2 separate regions of the Homo sapiens genome follow, and region 2 is linked to region 1. A link means that fine-mapping ties the variant in region 1 to the plasma level of a protein whose gene starts in the linked region. Region 1 holds a variant in brackets. A gene starts in the other region. All regions are shown on their forward strands. Region 1 has its middle 26 kb from the start of PRSS12. Region 2 holds the start of AGRN (agrin).

What was found. A credible set is the group of variants that fine-mapping cannot tell apart. PIP is the chance, under the fine-mapping model, that this variant and not a neighbour inherited with it causes the effect. Protein levels are from antibody-based Olink assays in UK Biobank. Linkage for the fine-mapping came from a reference panel and not from the study's own genotypes, which makes the PIPs less certain.
Region 2: AGRN starts here. The variant in region 1 is the best candidate, but not a certain one, in a credible set for the plasma level of the AGRN protein (UK Biobank, PIP 0.86).

Annotation. Positions count from the first base shown.
Region 1 is chr4:118,376,671-118,382,047 of GRCh38, forward strand. No RefSeq gene overlaps it. Among named protein-coding and RNA genes, the nearest start is that of PRSS12, 26 kb to the left of the region's middle. The variant T/C (reference allele first, on the strand shown) is at 2,153.
Region 2 is chr1:1,016,145-1,021,499 of GRCh38, forward strand. It overlaps AGRN (agrin), which reads left to right and starts at 3,976. Exons shown (of 36, transcript NM_198576.4): 1 at 3,976-4,229. The coding sequence starts at 4,029. RefSeq lists a silencer at 3,290-3,739 and an enhancer at 5,248-5,355.

The DNA.
Region 1 (5,377 bases):
ATTCGAGCAGCAAAATAAAGGAGGTGAAATCTGACTTCAGTTTCCCTGAGTAGCTGGTGTATGACAGGGTAGGACAGATAACCCTAAAAGGACAAACCACAGCTGTCCTCAAGCAGCTCTGGCAGGCTTCAGCCTCTTAAGCACAGAGGCCTCATGCTGCTCTCCAACAGCTAGAATAGTGGAGATGTGCTTGAGGCAGAAGAGGAAACTAGAAGAGATGGCACCAGGAAGTGAGGTCCAAAACAAACCAACAAATAAATAATGATGGTAATGGATGAAGACTCTTTGAGTAAAGTAGAAAGCCATGAATCTATAATGATGTTAACTAAGTAATTAGGTTCACTGGCACAAAGCATAATCTCAACAGTGTTGTCGAATGTCACAGTCCATCTTCAGGCAAGAATAATAAAAAAAATGCTAAAACTGATGGGTGAATGTATTAGTCTGTTCTCATGCTGCTAATAAAGACATACCCAAGACTGGGTAATTTATAAAGGAAAGAGGTTTAATTGACACACAGTTCCACATGGCTGGGGAGGCCTGACAATCATGGTGGAAAGCAAAGGAGGAGCAAAGGCATGTCTTACATGGTGGCAGGTAAAAGACTATGCACAGGAGAACTCCCCTTTATAAAACTATCAGATCTCATGAGACTTATTCACTATCATGAGAACAGCACAGGAAAAACTGCCCCCATGGCTTAATTACCTCCCACCAGGTCCCTCCTGCAACACATGGAGATTATAGGAGCTACAATTCAAGATGAGATTTGGGTGGGGACATAGCCAAATCATATCAGTGAAGTATCATGAGGAATAGGATATTCACATAGCCTCAAAGTGTTTTGTTAATTACTTATTAATTAATAATGACAACATATTTAACCAATTTTCAAGTAGAGAAAACTGGAAGACACCATCTTAACCAAGTTTTCAAAGTTAACATCATCAGATAAAGGACAAATTGATACCTTGTGGGTCTTGATATGATGCACTGAGGAGACCACATCATTTATGTGGTATTTCTGTCAAAAATGCACAAATCATGAGAAATCAGACAAAACCAATTTGGGGGACTTTCTACAAAGTAACTCTTCAAAAGTAACAAGAGCATGAAAGAGAAAGACAGGAAATGTTTCAGACTGAAGGGATCTAAAAAAGCATGTCAACTAAATGTGTCATGTGATCCTGGATTAGATCTAGGACCTTTGATGGACATCACTGGACGATTGGTAAAATTTGAAAGGGGCCTATGGATTAGATGGTAATTTACAATGCTAATTTCCTTGTCCTAGTGTGATTTTGTAGTAGATTGTCCTTGTATACACGAAACAAACACTGAAATATTAAGAGATAACATGGTATAATATCTGCAACTTATTCTCAAATGGCTCAGAAATATTATCAGAGGATCTGGGTGATAAAAACAAAGGGGAAACTTTTGTTTGAGATGTCAAAACACATATCTATATAATTTATGATTTCAAAAGGTAACCACAATGGAAGCTGATATTTAGGACTGAATGAAAATGAATTTACTTATGCAAATTTGTAGAATACAGTTATGATGGTAGTCGAAAGGAATTATAGCACTTGAAATACTTATATTAGAAAAAAATATATATGTCATTGGTGACAACATGGATGAACCTGGAGGACATAAGTTAGGTGAAATAATTCAGGTTCAGAAAGATAAATGCCATATGATTCCATCTGTGAAATATGAAAAAGTGAAACCTCATCAGAACAAGGTGTAAAATGGTGATTACCAGACTTGGGAATAAGGGAACTAGGGAGATGTTGATCAAAGGACACAAAATTTCAGTTAGACAGGAGGAATAAATTCAAGAGACCTATAAAAAATAGCACATCATGGTGACTGCAGTTAATAACAATATATTGTGTATTTGAAATGTGTTGCCGGGAGCGGTGGCTCACACCTGTAATCCCAGTCCTTTGGAAGGCCAAGGTGGGCAGATCATTTGAGGTCAGGAGTTCGAGACCAGCCTGGCCAACATGGTGAAACCCCTCTCTACTAAAAATACAAAAATTAGCCAGGCATGGTGGTGCATGCCTGTAATCCCAGCTACTTGGGAGGCTGAGGCAGGAGAATTGCTTGAACCCAGGAGGTGGAGTTTGCAGTGAGCTGAGAT[T/C]GCACCACTGCACTCCAGCTTGGGCAACAGAGCAAGATTCCGTCTCAAAAATAAATAAATAAATAAATAAATAAGAAATTTGCTAAGAGAGTAAATTTTGTGTTCTCACCACAAGAAAATAAGTATGTGAGGTAATTCATATGCTAAATAGCTTGAATTTTCCATTTCACAATGTATGCATATACCAAAACATCATGTTGTATACCATAACCACACAATTTTTATTTGTCAATTAAAATAAATAAATGAACTTTTTAAAGGAAAATAAGAATATAAATAGGACAAAATGATATTATGTACTTCCCAGTAATGTCATTTGAGAAAGACATTATATCATCATTGTAATATTTTTGGCAAAAATATTTCAACTGATTCTAATCATGAGGAAACAATCAGACAAACTGAAACTGTGGGACATTCTATCAAACACCTGGCCCAAATGTTTCAAAAATGTCAGTCTCATGGAAGTCAAAGAAAAGTAACAAGAACAAAAACAGAACACTCCTAGAATAAAAGCTAGAAAAACTCATGATCTAAATGCAATGCCTGTCTGGTCCTTGTTTTGCCCTGGATTTTTTTTTAAAAAGCTATAAATGTCAATGCTATTATTTAGACAATTGGGGACATTTGAACATAACATAATAGTATTACATAGTATTAACTGTATAGCTTGTGACAATATTATATTTATGTAGAATAGTATTTTTGTTCTCGAGAGGTGATGTGTCATGACATCAGCAATGATAAACAGATAATAAATCTGACAAGTGTTAATACTTGGAAAATCTAGGGGATGAGTACCCTGATAGTTGGAAGTTCATTGTATTGTGAGGTTATTTTCAATGTTTCTTGAGGTTTTGCGTTTAAGAAGGATTTGTTAAGCACTATGTGCTGGAAATACAAATAAACAAGACCCTTCCCCAAGGAAATCCCATTTTTATGGAAGATGTGACATGATGAAATTGCTGTAGTGTATGCTGATAGGTGCATGAATACAGACATTAAAAATACACATTGAATGTAGCGTAAATTTTGTTAATAAAAACATCAGAAATAAAGCTTAGAAAATTAAAATTCTCATATGTCATAGTCCAGAGATAACTATTGTTAACACTTATATATGTTCTTTCTTTCCTCTCCCTTCCTCTCCCTTCTCTTCTCTTGCTCTCTACCTTTGGGAGATGGGAGTACTAAATGGAAGTCACATGGAATTTTCAGTTCTGTTCTCTGACTTTTTCACTCATTATGTCATTGCAGAGTATTTTCCTTGCCATTAACATTTCTTTGAAATTTCCATTTTGGCTGCACAATATTTAATTATACTCCCCCATTGTTGAAGATTTTGACCATTTCCAAATATTCTCTATTATAAATGATTATAAGAAGGAAATGATTAATCAAAAAGGGGTTTGGATAGCAAGAGAAAATGCTGGTCATAGTATGAAAGTAAGTAAATTTTTAATATATTCCTTTTGATATATTCCTTTCACTCATTTTATAACAGGAGATGCTACCCCTTATCTAATTTTCCAGTTAGTTTACATAATGATTTTGCTGGATTAGCTCATAGTGGTATTTTATATTGAAGTAACAATATAGCAATATCAGGTTATATGTTAATATTAAATATTTGTAATGTGAAATTAAAATTCTTCATTTGATTTTTCTACTTCTGAAAGAAGTTTTAATATAAAATGCAATTTAAAGGAAACATTTTATTATATTAAAAATAATTTTCCTTATTTAATATCCCTCTCCCTTTAACCTTCCCCCTTAAACTTCTCTGTGGATTTTATTATTTCTTGAAATGAAAATGTCTTTGGGCATTTATGTATCTGAAAGATAAAATGCACAACAGTTAAAGATAATTTTTCACCTACTCTGTTGAGGAAAAAAATTCAGTGTTGGTTTTTTTTGTTTTTGTTTGTGAGACAAAGTCTTGTTCTGTTGCCCAGGCTGGAGCGCAGTGGGGTGATCATGGCTCACTGCAGCCTCAGCCTCTTGGGCTCAAACAATCCTCCCACGTCAGCCTCTCAAGTAGCTGGGACCACAGGCACACACCATCACATTCAGCTATTTCTTTTGTGTGTGTGTGTGTGTGTGTGTGTACACTGGTCTCCCTATGTTGGCCAGACTGGTCTCAAACTCCTGGCCTCCCAAAGTGTTGCCACTACAGGCGTGAGCCATTGCACTGGGCTACAGTGTTGTTTGGAGAAATTTAAAGGGGAAAGGCACTCTCACATACCATTTATGGGAGTGCAATTTGATATAACTTTTTTGTAGGATAATATATTTAAAATGCTAATATGCATAACCATGTTCTTATCCGTATTTTAAGGTTTTAAAAACATATACAGACAACTTTTAATTGTCCTTGGGAGAGAGAGACTAATATATAGACTAATACAGCTAACGGAAACATTAAAATCCACTGACAGTCACTTTACACAGGCACTTAAGTCCCCTCTTTCCTCAAAGATTTTATTAAATCCTCTAATAAATAGCAAAATGATGGACAACATGATCCCCTGCTTTCCTCTATCTCCAAACTACTCTTGGCAGATGTATCAGTGATTAGTGAAATAGCTAAATAGCCACAGTGAGACAAAGTAAAGGCCAAATGCTTGTATAATCCCCAAACAGGACAGGTAGCCACTAAATAATTAAGGTTTGACTGTGCAGTAGATATAAATTATGCCTAACAAATCCCTTCTGCTCAGCCCTTTCATTATATAATACAAAATGGATTGTATAGAGTAAGTCTTTCCACAAATGGTTCGTAGCAGAGGATGTTTCAATGAGGATTCTAAATTAGTTAAATGGTCTAAGTACAGAGGAGACAAAAAGGATAATTAGAAACATGCTAAATGGTTGGCCAGTACTAAAGTCTCTAATACCTCTTCGGAGACTCCTTTATGTTATCTCTATTCCTATAAAGAAATGGTAACAAATCAAATAGATTATATCCTCAGAAGGCATTTTGCAATCGTACAAGTGTCCCTAAATGGCAACTTAACTGGAAATAAATAAAAACTTTACCTTATACGGTTATAACCCACAATTTTCTTAATGAGCAGAGCTGCCTATTGGGTTTTTATAGCTAGTCTTTCCCACTTTCAAACTCTGAAGACATGAAATGTTCTTTTTGTTATAGCCCAGAAGCTTTTTTGTACTCTAAATGTACCAAAAATATTTTTATTTATGTGTCTGTGCACACTGTGTATC
Region 2 (5,355 bases), not on the chromosome of region 1:
ACCTCCCGGGTTCAAGCAATTCTCCTGCCTCAGCCTCCCAAGTAGTTGGGATTAATGGTGCCCGCCACCTCACCCAGCTAACTTTTTTTTGTGTTTTTAGTAGAGACAGCGTTTCACTGTATTGGCCAGGCTAGTCTCGAATTCCTGACCTCATGATCCGCCCGCTTCAGCCTTCCAAAGTGCTAGGGTTACAAGTGTGAGCCCCCGCACCCGGCCTAATTTTTGTATTTTTAGTAGAGATGGGGTTTCATCATGTTGGCCAGGCTGGTCTTGAACTCCTGGCCTCAAGTGGTCCGCCTGCCTCGGGCTCCCAAAATGCTGGGATTACAGGTGTGAACCACTGGGCCTGACTGACCCAGTCCTTTTTTTAAAAAAATTACTTACTTTTCCCAGGGTCATACTCTCAGCTAGGCTGGAGTGCAGTGGCACAATCACCGCTCACCGCAGCCTCCACCTCCCACACTCAAGTGATCCTCCCGCCTCAGCCTCCCGAGGAGCTGGGATTACAGGTGCGTGTCACCACACCTGGCTAATTTTGTATTTGTTTTGTTTTGTGTTTCTTTGAGATGGAGTTTCGCTCTGTCGCCCAGGCTGGAGTGCAGTGGTGTGATCTCGGCTCACTGCAAGCTCCACCTCCTGAGTTCAAGCGATTCTCCTGCCTCAGCCTCCTGACTGGCTGGGATTACAGGTGCGTGTCACCCGGCTAATTTTTTAGTAGAGGCAGTTTCACCATGTTGGTCAGGCTGGTCCCGAACTCCTGACCTTGTGATCCACTCCCCCCTTGGCTGCCCAAAGTGCTGGGATCACAAGCGTGAGTTACCGTGCCCTGTCTGTATTTATAGTAGAGACAGAGTTTCACCATGTTGGCCAGGCTGGTCTCGAACTACTGACCTCAAGTGATCCGCCCACCTCGGCCTCCCAAAGTGCTGGGATTACAGGCCTGAGCCACCACGCCCGGCCCGTCGACTAATTTTTTTTTTTTGAAACAGTCTCGCTCTGTCACCCAGGCTGGAGTGCAGTTGCACTGTGTCCAGAATTGGTGGGTTCTTGGTCTCACTGACTTCAAGAATGAAGCCACGGACCCTCGCGGTGAGTGTTACAGCTCTTAAGTCGGCGCGTCTTCAGTTCGTTCCTTCTGATGTTCGGATATGTTCGGAGTTTCTTCCTTCTGGTGGGTTCGTGGTCTCGCTGGCTCAGGAGTGAAGCTGCAGACCTTGGCGGCGAGTGTTACAGCTCTTAAGGCAGCGCGTCTGGATTTTTTGTTCCTCCCGGTGGGCTCGTGGTCTCGCTGGTTTCAGGAGTGAAGCTGCAGACCTTGGCGGTGAGTGTTACAGCTCATAAAAGCAGTGTGAACCCAAAAAGTGAGCAGTAGCAAGATTTATTGCAAAGAGCGAAAGAACAAAGCCTCCACTGTGTGGAAGGGGACCTGACCGGGTTGCCACTGCTAGCACCGGCAGCCTGCTTTTATTCTCTTATCTGGCCCCACCCACATCCTGCTGATGGGTAGAGCCTAGTGGTCTGTTTTGACAGGGCGCTGATTGGTGCATTTACAATCCCTGAGCTAGACACAAAGGTTCTCCACGTCCCCACCAGATTAGTTAGATACAGAGTATCCACACAAAGGTTCTCCAAGGCCCCACCAGAGTAGCTAGATACAGAGTCCACTGGCACATTCACAAACCCTGAGCTAGACACAGGGCGCTGATTGGTGTATTTACAAACCTTGAGCTAGATACAGAGTGCCGATTGGTGTATTTACAATCCCTGAGCTAGACATAAATGTTCTCCAAGGTCTCACCAGAGTAGCTAGATACAGAGTGTCCACTGGCGCATTCACAAACCCTGAGCTAGACACAGGGTGCTGATTGGTGTATTTACAAACCTTGAGCTAGATACAGAGTGCCGATTGGTGTATTTACAATCCCTGAGCTAGACATAAAGGTTCTCCAAGGCCCCACCAGAGTAGCTAGATACAGAGTGTCTGTCTATTGGTGCATTCACAGACTCTGAGCTAGACACAGGGTGCTGATTGGTGTATTTACAATCCCTGAGCTAGACATAAAGGTTCTCCACGTCTCCACCACTCAGGAGCCCAGCTGGCTTCACCCAGTGGATCCCGCACTGGGGCTGCAAGTGGAGCTGCCTGCCAGTCCTGCGCTGTGCACCCGCACTCCTCAGCCCTTGGGTGGTCATGGGACTAGGCACGGTGGAGCAGGGGGCAGCGCTCATCGGGGAGGCTTGGGCCGCACAGGAGCCCACGGAGGGGGTGGGAGGCTCAGGCATGGTGGGCTGCAGGTCCCCAGCTCTGCCCCGCCGGAAGGCAGCTAAGGCCTGGCGAGTAATCGAGTGCAGCGCCAGTGGGCTGGCACTGCTGGGGGACCCACTACACCCTCCGCAGCCGCTGGCCCGGGTGCTAAGCCCCTCATTGCTCCGGGCCGGCAGGGCCGGCCGGCTGCTCCAAGTGCGGGGCCCACCAAGCCCACGCCCACTCGGAACTCCAGCTGGCCCGCAAGAGCCGCGCGCAGCCCCGGTTCCCGCTCATGCCTCTCCCTCCACACCTCCCTGCAAGCTGAGGGAGCCGGCTCCCGCCTTGGCCAGCCCAGAAAGGGGCTCCCACAGTGCAGCGGTGGGCTGAAGGGCTCCTCAAGTGCCACCAAAGTGGGAGCCCAGGCAGAGGAGGCGTGAAGACCGAGAGAGGGCTGTGAGGACTGCCAGCACGCTGTCACCTCTCAGCACCATCTCAGCTCACTGCAACCTCCGCCTCCTGGGTTCAAGCGATTCTCCTGCCTCAGCCTCCCAAGTAGCTAGGACTACAGGCGCCTGCCACCACACCGGCCAATTTTTGTATTTTTAGTAGAGACGGGGTTTCACCATGTTGGCCAGGCTGGTCTCGAACTCCTGACCTCCCGTGATCCACCTGCCTCAGCCTCCCAAAGTGCTGGGATTACAGGCGTGAGCCACTGCGCCCGGCCCATCCAGCTAATTTTTAATTTTTTTGAGAGATGGGGTCTTGCTATTTTGCCCAGGCTAGTCTCGAACACCCGGTGTCAAGAGATCTTGCTGCCTCCGCCTCCCAGAGTGCTGGGATGACAGGCGTGAGTCACCACGCCCAGCCTAGACACAGTTCTGAAGGGACAAAGGGGGCCTCCGCTCCCTCCTTTCAATCTTCAGCTAGGCCAGGCTCCCACTTGGGTCCTCCAGCCCTCAGTTTCCCCCTGCACCCAGCCAGGCCAAGCTGCAGAGGCGCCCGGCCCAGAGCTGGGAAGGGGCGTGGCGGGACCCGCGCTTGCAGCCGCGGGACGGAAGGGGGCGCGAACCTCCCCGCGGCGGGGCCTGGGGGGGCGGGGCCGGGAGGGGCGGGGCCGCGCCCCGTGCTGGCCAATCAGCGCCCGCCCCGGCACCGGGACCCGCCTCCGCGCCGCAGCTCCCGGGGGGTCCGGCCCGGCCGAGCCTCGGTGTCCGGCCCCGCGGGGGAGGGGCGCGGCCTGCGGAGCGGGATCGGGGCCGGGTCTGGGGCCCCTCCCGGCGGCCTTCGAGCCCTGCCGCCCGGCTCCGCGCCGCCCGGAGCCCCTCGGCAGTCCCGTCACGTCTCCTCCAGATTAGGCATTAACTCGGGTGCAGCCGCACTTCCGGGGGGCCGCGGCGGGGGAGGGGCGCCTGCGGGATCCAGACCCGCCCCCCACTCTCCTCTCCCCGCCCCCTCCCGGGCCGCCCCTTTCCCGCCCCACGGCCGCGCCGGGCGCTGCGTCCCGGGGCTTTGTTCGCGGCGGCGCGGGTCGCCGGCCTCCGGGCGGGCCGGGGGAGGGAGGAGGGAGGGGGCGGGAGGGGGAAGGAAGGAGGAGGGGGAGGAGGAGGGCGCGGGGAGGGGGTAGGGGGGCGGGGAGGAGAGAGGGGGAGGGGCGCCGCCCTGGCCCCGCCCCCCCCCGCCCGCCCGCCCGCGCTCCGCCGCCTCCGGAGCTGCGTCCCGTCCTGTCCAGTCCCGTCCCCGGCGCGGCCCGCGCGCTCCTCCGCCGCCTCTCGCCTGCGCCATGGCCGGCCGGTCCCACCCGGGCCCGCTGCGGCCGCTGCTGCCGCTCCTTGTGGTGGCCGCGTGCGTCCTGCCCGGAGCCGGCGGGACATGCCCGGAGCGCGCGCTGGAGCGGCGCGAGGAGGAGGCGAACGTGGTGCTCACCGGGACGGTGGAGGAGATCCTCAACGTGGACCCGGTGCAGCACACGTACTCCTGCAAGGTGCGCCCACCCGGACCCCGGCCTCCCCTCGCGACGCCTGCCGCCCCGCCGGGACCCCCGCCCCAGGCCGTGGGAACCAGCCCCGGTCGCTCCGCAGCCCCCGCTCCGGCTCCCTTGGCGACCGCCAAGCCCCGGGAGGGGGGGTCGCCGGGTCCCGGGAAACTCGCGGGCGCCGGGGAAAGTTGCTGCGCCGCCGCCGTCCTCCGCCCGCCGCCGCCTCCCTCCTCGCGGAGACAAGTGCACCTCGCCCACGGACTGCGGCTGCCGCGCGCCCTCCCTACCGGCCGAGAAGGAGAGGGGCCTGGGGAGGGGGGGCCTTTGCCCGGGCGGGGAGCGGGGGCTGGGCCTGGGATCCGCTTGTTCCCCTCCCCAGAGGCCTTTCCCGGGGCGAGAGGGGTTGGTCAGGAGAGAAAAAGGGGCGCACAGCCTGAGCTCCCAACCCCGGGAGCCAGGTGGGGGGTGCCGCAGTGGTGCGGGGGGGGGGCGTGCAGGAGCAGAGAGGTGGGCGGGGCCGTCACCGGGCCTCGTGTGCTTGGGGGCAGGGCCGGTGCCCCATCGCGCTCCTGCGGGAACCGGGGCTCCCCACCCCGGGGAGGGGAAGTTTCCCTGGTTTCTCCTTCAGGTGCTTCTGGGAGCCCCCGGGGTAGGTACGCTGGGACCCCCACCATCTTCTCCTAGTAGGGGCTCGGGGGACCCAGAGCCGGCGCCCGTGTACCCCCAAAACCATCTCCTGGGACCAGAAATCCACTCATTTCCCTCCACGGAGGTGGAGAAGGTGGCAGCTTCTTTCAGACTGGCCGGTGCGGGCTACAGCTGGGCTCCCCCGCCGGCCCAGTCTCCTCCACAGCGGCCAGGGCACTTTGCCAGGCCCCTGCAGGATTTTCCCGACTTCCTCCCCGCTGCTCCTGGGTGTGGCTGGGGTGGGGGAAGGCGATGAAAGCCACCAGGCCCTCCCCCTGCCTGGGTCATCTGCCTCCTGGAGCCTACTGTTGGGGGGCGTGGAAGAGGCTCTGCCTGCGCAACTGGAGGGGGTCCCTGCGGATGCCGCAGTCCTGAGGCTCCCAGCAGGGGCTGCGCAGTGGACAGGCCAACCATTGTCTCTCCCCCCATCCGGCAGCCCCAGCCC